Regions from separate parts of the Homo sapiens genome. Here region 2 is linked to region 1. The links come from fine-mapping of genetic effects on gene expression. A gene starts in region 1. The other region holds a variant in brackets. All regions are shown on one strand. Distances are between the middles of the regions.

Region 1 (2,909 bases):
AGGCCCTCAGAGGCTCCATAATGTCCCCTAAAGCCACACAATCTTGGCCCAAGATTTGCTTGGCCCAGGGGCCTGGACGCTTGATCTCATAGATGGTCTGTCCATGTAGCTTGCAACACTCAAGAAGTCCCTCTCCAGTGAGGGAGCTCTGAACCCTGGCAGTGAGGCCTCTCAGTGAGGGGGCTTCTGAGCCCTGGCAGTGAGAAGCTCTCTGTGACCAGGGGACCCACCCTGCAACCTCCCCACCATTCCATAGCTGCCAGCACCTGTGCCCACTTCGAAGCTTAACCCTGAATGATAAGAGAGACCAGGAGCCAACAGCTTTACGTACGTTACTAATGAGCCTCAGAACAAACTCACAAAAAAATCTTATTCCTACTTCACAAACAAGAAGTTGAGGATCAGAGAGGTTAACTCAAATGACAAAGTCACACAGCTTTTAAGTCCCCTGCTCTTGGCACCAGACTCAGCAGCTTTGATGTGTTTGTTCTCTTCCTCCCTGTTTTTATTGAGGGCTTCTGAGGTGCCCTCCTTCTCCATCTCCTCCCTTCTCCTTCTTCTCCTCCTCCCCCTCCCCCCCGCCTCCTCCTCCTCTTCCTTCTTCTTCTCCTCTCCCTCTCCTCCTCCTTCTCCTTCTCCTCCTTCTCCTTCTCCTTTCTCTTTTTTAAATTTAAGAGATGGGGTCCCACTCTGTCACCCAAGCTGGAGTGCAATGGAATGATCACAGCTCACTGCAGCCTCAACCTCCCAGGCTCAAGCAGTCCTCCCACCTCAGCCTCCAGAGTAGCTGGGAATATAGGCACACCTCACTACACCTAGCTAATTTTTAAATTTTTTTGTAGAGACAGGGTCTTTCTGTGTTGCCCAAGCTGGTCTTGAACTCCTGGGTTCAAGTGATCTGCTCCCCCTCAGCCTCCCAAAGTGCTAGGATTACAGGACTGAGCCACCATGCCCGGCCAAGTCACCCTTCTTGAACTTTGATTCACCAAGCTCTTCAGTCCAATTTTACACAAGTGTGAACTCAGGTGTGTGCTTGTGATTCTTTGTTCACACACAGCCAAGTTGGCACAAGAAGGTGAAACAGAGAAAGGCCTCAGTGTTTTTGGCCAAGCCCACAGAAGGCCACCTAAGCAGGCTGGATGCTGCCCAGGGCTGGGCCACAGCGTGTCCTTTGTAAGTCAGCCATCCCAGCCCCCGAACCCCACACACACACAAAGACACACACTTACCCCAGGAGCAGCCCCACAGTGCAAAGGAGCCCACACAGCGGCTAATGGCTGCTCAGGTTTGTGTGATCTGTCTGGGTTCAGGCACAACCTCCAGGGGCCTCTGGCCCAGGTTGCATCTTTCCTGCAGAGCAGAAAAAGCACAGTTAAGAAAACCCCAAGAAGGCAGTCAGTTTCCTCCCTTGAGTTTCTGGGGTGGACTTCCGGCAGAGTTTTTGGAGGACTGACTGTTGCAGTTAAACAATGTGTCTGGCAAGAAGCGAGACTTCCTCCCTTCCTGCTGCCTGGCTCATGGGGCTGCAGCCTCCTTCTGGAGGTGGCAAGAAAGAACTGTGGAGTCCGCGATCTAAGGGATCCCTGGCAGCCCACGGCAGCCAGAGAACCACATCCGCTGGAGAACTCTAGGTTCTCTACGGCCTCTTGTTACTGCCAGTGCTTGTGTGGCTTGAGGTGGGTAATGCGGCAGCCTCCTGCAGCTAGCCCAGGACTGGGCAGCATGGGGCCAGGTAGTTAGTGTAGGAGAGTGAGCCCAAGCTTGGAAAGCAAGACTTGGCTCTGTCACTGGGCAACCGGGCAACCTTTTTTTGGTTTGGTTTTGTTTTGTTGTTTTTGAGACAGAGTCTTGCTCTATTGCCCAGGCTGGAGTGCAGTGGCATGCTCAAGTCCTGCCTCCCTGGTTCAAGCGATTCTCCTGCCTCAGCCTCCTGAGTAGCTGGGACTACGGGCATGTGCCACCACGCCTGGCTGATTTTTATATTTTTTATTGACGGGGTTTTGTCATGTTGGCCAGGCTGTCCTCAAACTCCTCCCCTCAAGTAATCTGCCCTCCTCGGCCTCCCAAGTGCTGGGATTACAGGCATGAGCCACTGCGCCCAGCCTGGGCAACCTTGAAGAAGTTACTTAGCTTCTCTGAGCCTCAGTTTCCTCATCTGTATAATGGAAGCAATAGTGTCCGTTTTGCAGGGCTAGTATGCCTGGTAAATGAGAATCCTCATAAGAGCCTAGAAATAATAGTGTCATAATGCAGGTGGTTCTACTATTACCAGTGACTAGTATTTGTTGAACACTGACCATAGACTAAGTTTTGTACTGAGCGTTTTATATTTATTGTCCCATTTAGTCCTCCAAAAAATCTAATGAGATATGACCATCCCCAGCTTACAAATAAGAAAACTGAAACTCAAAAAGACCAGCAAGTGACCCCAGAGAACTGCACAAGGATCTGCAGAGAGTGAGCAACAGGAGCCGAAGCCGTGGGCTCATACCAGGCTCTCTTCCTGCCTCTTAAGCCCATGGCACATTTGGAGGGTGCTACCTGAATTGAATGGGTGTGCCTGTTGTTTTGAAGTTGGGGTCTACGGCCATACCACCCTGAACGTGCCGGATCTCGTCTGAAGTTGAGGATAGGCATCATCTTTCACTTCAAAATGAAGAAACGGAGGCATTGGGAGGTTAAGTCACACATAGCCAGCAAGTGGCAGAGAGTGAAAGGAACCAGCATTGATGAGCGCCTACTGTATGCCAAACACTGTGCTTACTTCAAGATCCTGTGATCTGCTGGGTGGTTTTGGAGATGTTGGAGTTTCATTGACTTCCTACACTGCCCTGAAGAGGTCTTATTAGTATTAGCCCCATTTTACAGAGAAGGGAACTGAAGCTCCGTGCATGTAATTAGACTCCGAA
Region 2 (2,909 bases), 22 kb before region 1:
ATAAAAATGTTCTGAAGATGGATGGTGTGGATGGTGGTGATGGCTGTGCCATACATAATGTGAAAGTACTTAATGTTCTTGAACTGTGCACTTAAAATGGTTAAATGGTAAATTTTATGTTATGTATATTTTGCTGCAAAAACCCACTTATACAATATAAGGTGACATTATTCCTGATATTTTCTTACCTCTCCCCCTCATACACCCACCCCTACTGCTGTGCATATTCCAGATTTTGATAAACACTTGCTAAACCAATGCTGTCCTCACAGAACATACCCTCCTCTCCTCTTCCTCCCCTGCCCATCTGCATAGACGTGTAGTTGGCCAGCTTACCTGAATAGATCTTTTAAATCAAACCAGTCTAAATATTTGTAATGTGACAAAACATAAAAAGGGATGGAGAAAGCGAGGGAGAGACGGGTGTGCCTCATGCATTCATGGATTTGTATTTATACTCCAATGATCTTGTTATTTTTAAAGTCTGCTAAAGCTGGTTCCACCTGCAGGTTTCTTTTGGTGTCCTAAATCTGTGTGTGCATTCTCCACATGCTTGGAGTCAGCGTACATGAGCTGTTTGTCCCCCAGCTGGCTTTTTGCAGTGGAAGAGGCGCAAACAGAATCCGCAGCACGTAGGACAGGGAGCCTGAAATCCCACGCCGCACAGCACTCAGTGTGTGCAGGAGCTGAGGGAAGCAATAAGACCTAATAACCTCATCCATTCTCCTAATTGCTTTCTTCTCCTCACAGAGGAGCCACATCAGCAGCTCTGGTGACCCTCAGGGAAATCTCTGCTTGTTATGAGGTTGGTGGGCCATCCTTTCATCACTGTGAAATGCTGGCAGTTTGTGTCAACAAATCGAATTTCAGTCAATCAATAGGCACCCCGCCTCTCAGCTTGGCAGAGCTGCACAGCTGGCCTTCCTTCCCTCCCATCTGCTGCCCATGCCCTGGAGCCCTGGCAGCAAGAACCACTGCTGCCCGTGGCGTGGGAGAATGCCCAGGCAGCCAGGTCAGACTGGATGTGGCAGACAGCAATTGACAAGGCTGGTTCCACCACCAGAGAGTCACAGCCCACTGGAAACACACCATGTTGTACAGGGTGGAAGCGCCAGCTTTGTGCAGATGGACTTGGGTACAGGTCTGATTCTGCCACTTTGGGCTGTATGGCCTTGAACTTCAAGGCAAGTTCTTCACCTCTTTGAACTCTACCTTCCTTAGTTATAAAGCGGGGATGCTACTGCTGCCTGCTGCAGGATTGTTAGGAAAAGTGTTATAATGCATGCAAAGTGCTTTGTCCAGTCCCTGGCACACAGTAGAGAGAGAGAGAGAGAGAGAGTGTGTGTGTGTGTATGTCACTGTGATCTGCCAAGTCTTACAAGCCAAATAGGGCAATAAATGGCAACTACTGCGGATTTTACAATCATCATTAGCATCATCATCATTATTATTGTCATGTTGAGTGTTGCACAGAAAACAGCCT[A/G]GAACCAGCCTACGTGGTTCTATCAATGCAGGATGAGAATATTCAGCCTCCAGTTCATGAAGGTTCACTAAGCAGAGATGTACACTGGATGATCACCAGCGTGTACAAAAAATAAATACTATAGTATCTTCATCAGAGGGCTGCCATTGGCCTCAGGAGGGCATTCCCAGGTAGAAGTGCCTCAGGAGGTTTGTTCTGTTGCCTGGCCCAACATCCTATAGGGAAGGAGCCCAATAGTGGCTCCTTGAAATTTCTGCATTCTCTGGAAGCCAGAAAAAGCAAAGACCTCCTGGCAATTGAGTTCTCTTGCTTGTAGGGGAGATCACAGCTTCGTAGATAGACGGCTGTTTCCCTTTGGGTGATAGAGGTCCCTGCTGGGCAACAAAGAATTAAACACAAATCTATTTCTTGCCAGTAGTTGTCACACCTAATAGATTGGGATGAGATACCACTGCATTAGTGTGTGAATTTCCCCAGATGAAGGCAGCAGCAAAGCCCTTTAGAACAAGCCACAGAAGGACAGAAACAAACTAATCAGGGAATGCACAGCTTCACACAAGATCCAGGGGCTTCTGACATGGGAGGAACACAAAAGTTTTAACTAACCAAGGATGCAAACATTCCCCCAGCAAGAAATGGTTAGAAGTATCTTGGAGTGCATTTTGTGGTCGCTGTTACTGCTGCTGCTGTTTTGTATAATAGGGAAGGAAAAGAGAATAATTAGAGGTGAGATTTTCAGACACAGAATGCCCTAGTATTTATTGAGTTTCCACTCTGAGGCAGGCACTGTGAGAAGCCCTTCCACATTTATTATTTCATTGCATTTGTCATAATAACCCTGCATGGCAGGAATATTTACCCTTTTTGTCCAATGTGGATGCTGAGGCCCAGATAGAACCCAAAAAGCTCTGGGACCTGGCATAGACCAGGTGCTAGGTAACAAGAGATTGGCAGAGCCTTGCCCAGGGTCACAAATCAAGAGGAGAGATTCAAATGCAGATCCTAAAACTCCAGACCACCCCTCTTTTCTCTCTCCCTACCTGCTTGCTCAGTGCAGGAGACTGGGAGGGCCCTGAGCCAGGATGGGTTTAGACTCATGGAAGAAAATTCCATGGGGGAAAAATGTTTTTTCCATGAGAATCTGCTCTCATATAGCAGCCACACTTCTCCATACAGCCCAGAGACAGATCCTTCTAACATTCAAGCTAGTCTTAGGTCTTTGGGGGAGAGATTCAAAGATTCTGAATTAAAAAAAAAAATTAGACCCCCAGAACAGTAGAATACGATTCATGTCTGTTATGAATTACAGTTGGGTCTTTATCGTGCAGCAAGGGGTCCTCAATGGTGCCTACATCCTTTCTGAAATTGATCTTATTGGGATAACATGGCCAAAAAGGAAAACAAAAGCAAATAGTCATGCGTGTTT

What was found. PIP is the estimated chance that this variant, and not a neighbour inherited with it, causes the effect.
Region 2: its variant is the best candidate, but not a certain one, in a credible set for the expression of LINC00539 in whole blood (TOPMed, PIP 0.65).

Annotation. Positions count from the first base shown.
Region 1 is chr13:21,343,437-21,346,345 of GRCh38, forward strand. It overlaps LINC00539 (long intergenic non-protein coding RNA 539), which reads right to left and starts at 1,423. Exons shown (of 3, transcript NR_103841.1): 1 at 1,230-1,423. It also overlaps the pseudogene MIPEPP3.
Region 2 is chr13:21,321,846-21,324,754 of GRCh38, forward strand. The region is part of intron 2 of LINC00539 (long intergenic non-protein coding RNA 539); the gene reads right to left. It also overlaps the pseudogene MIPEPP3 and the pseudogene GRK6P1. Among named protein-coding and RNA genes, the nearest start is that of LINC00539, 22 kb to the right of the region's middle. The variant A/G (reference allele first, on the strand shown) is at 1,484.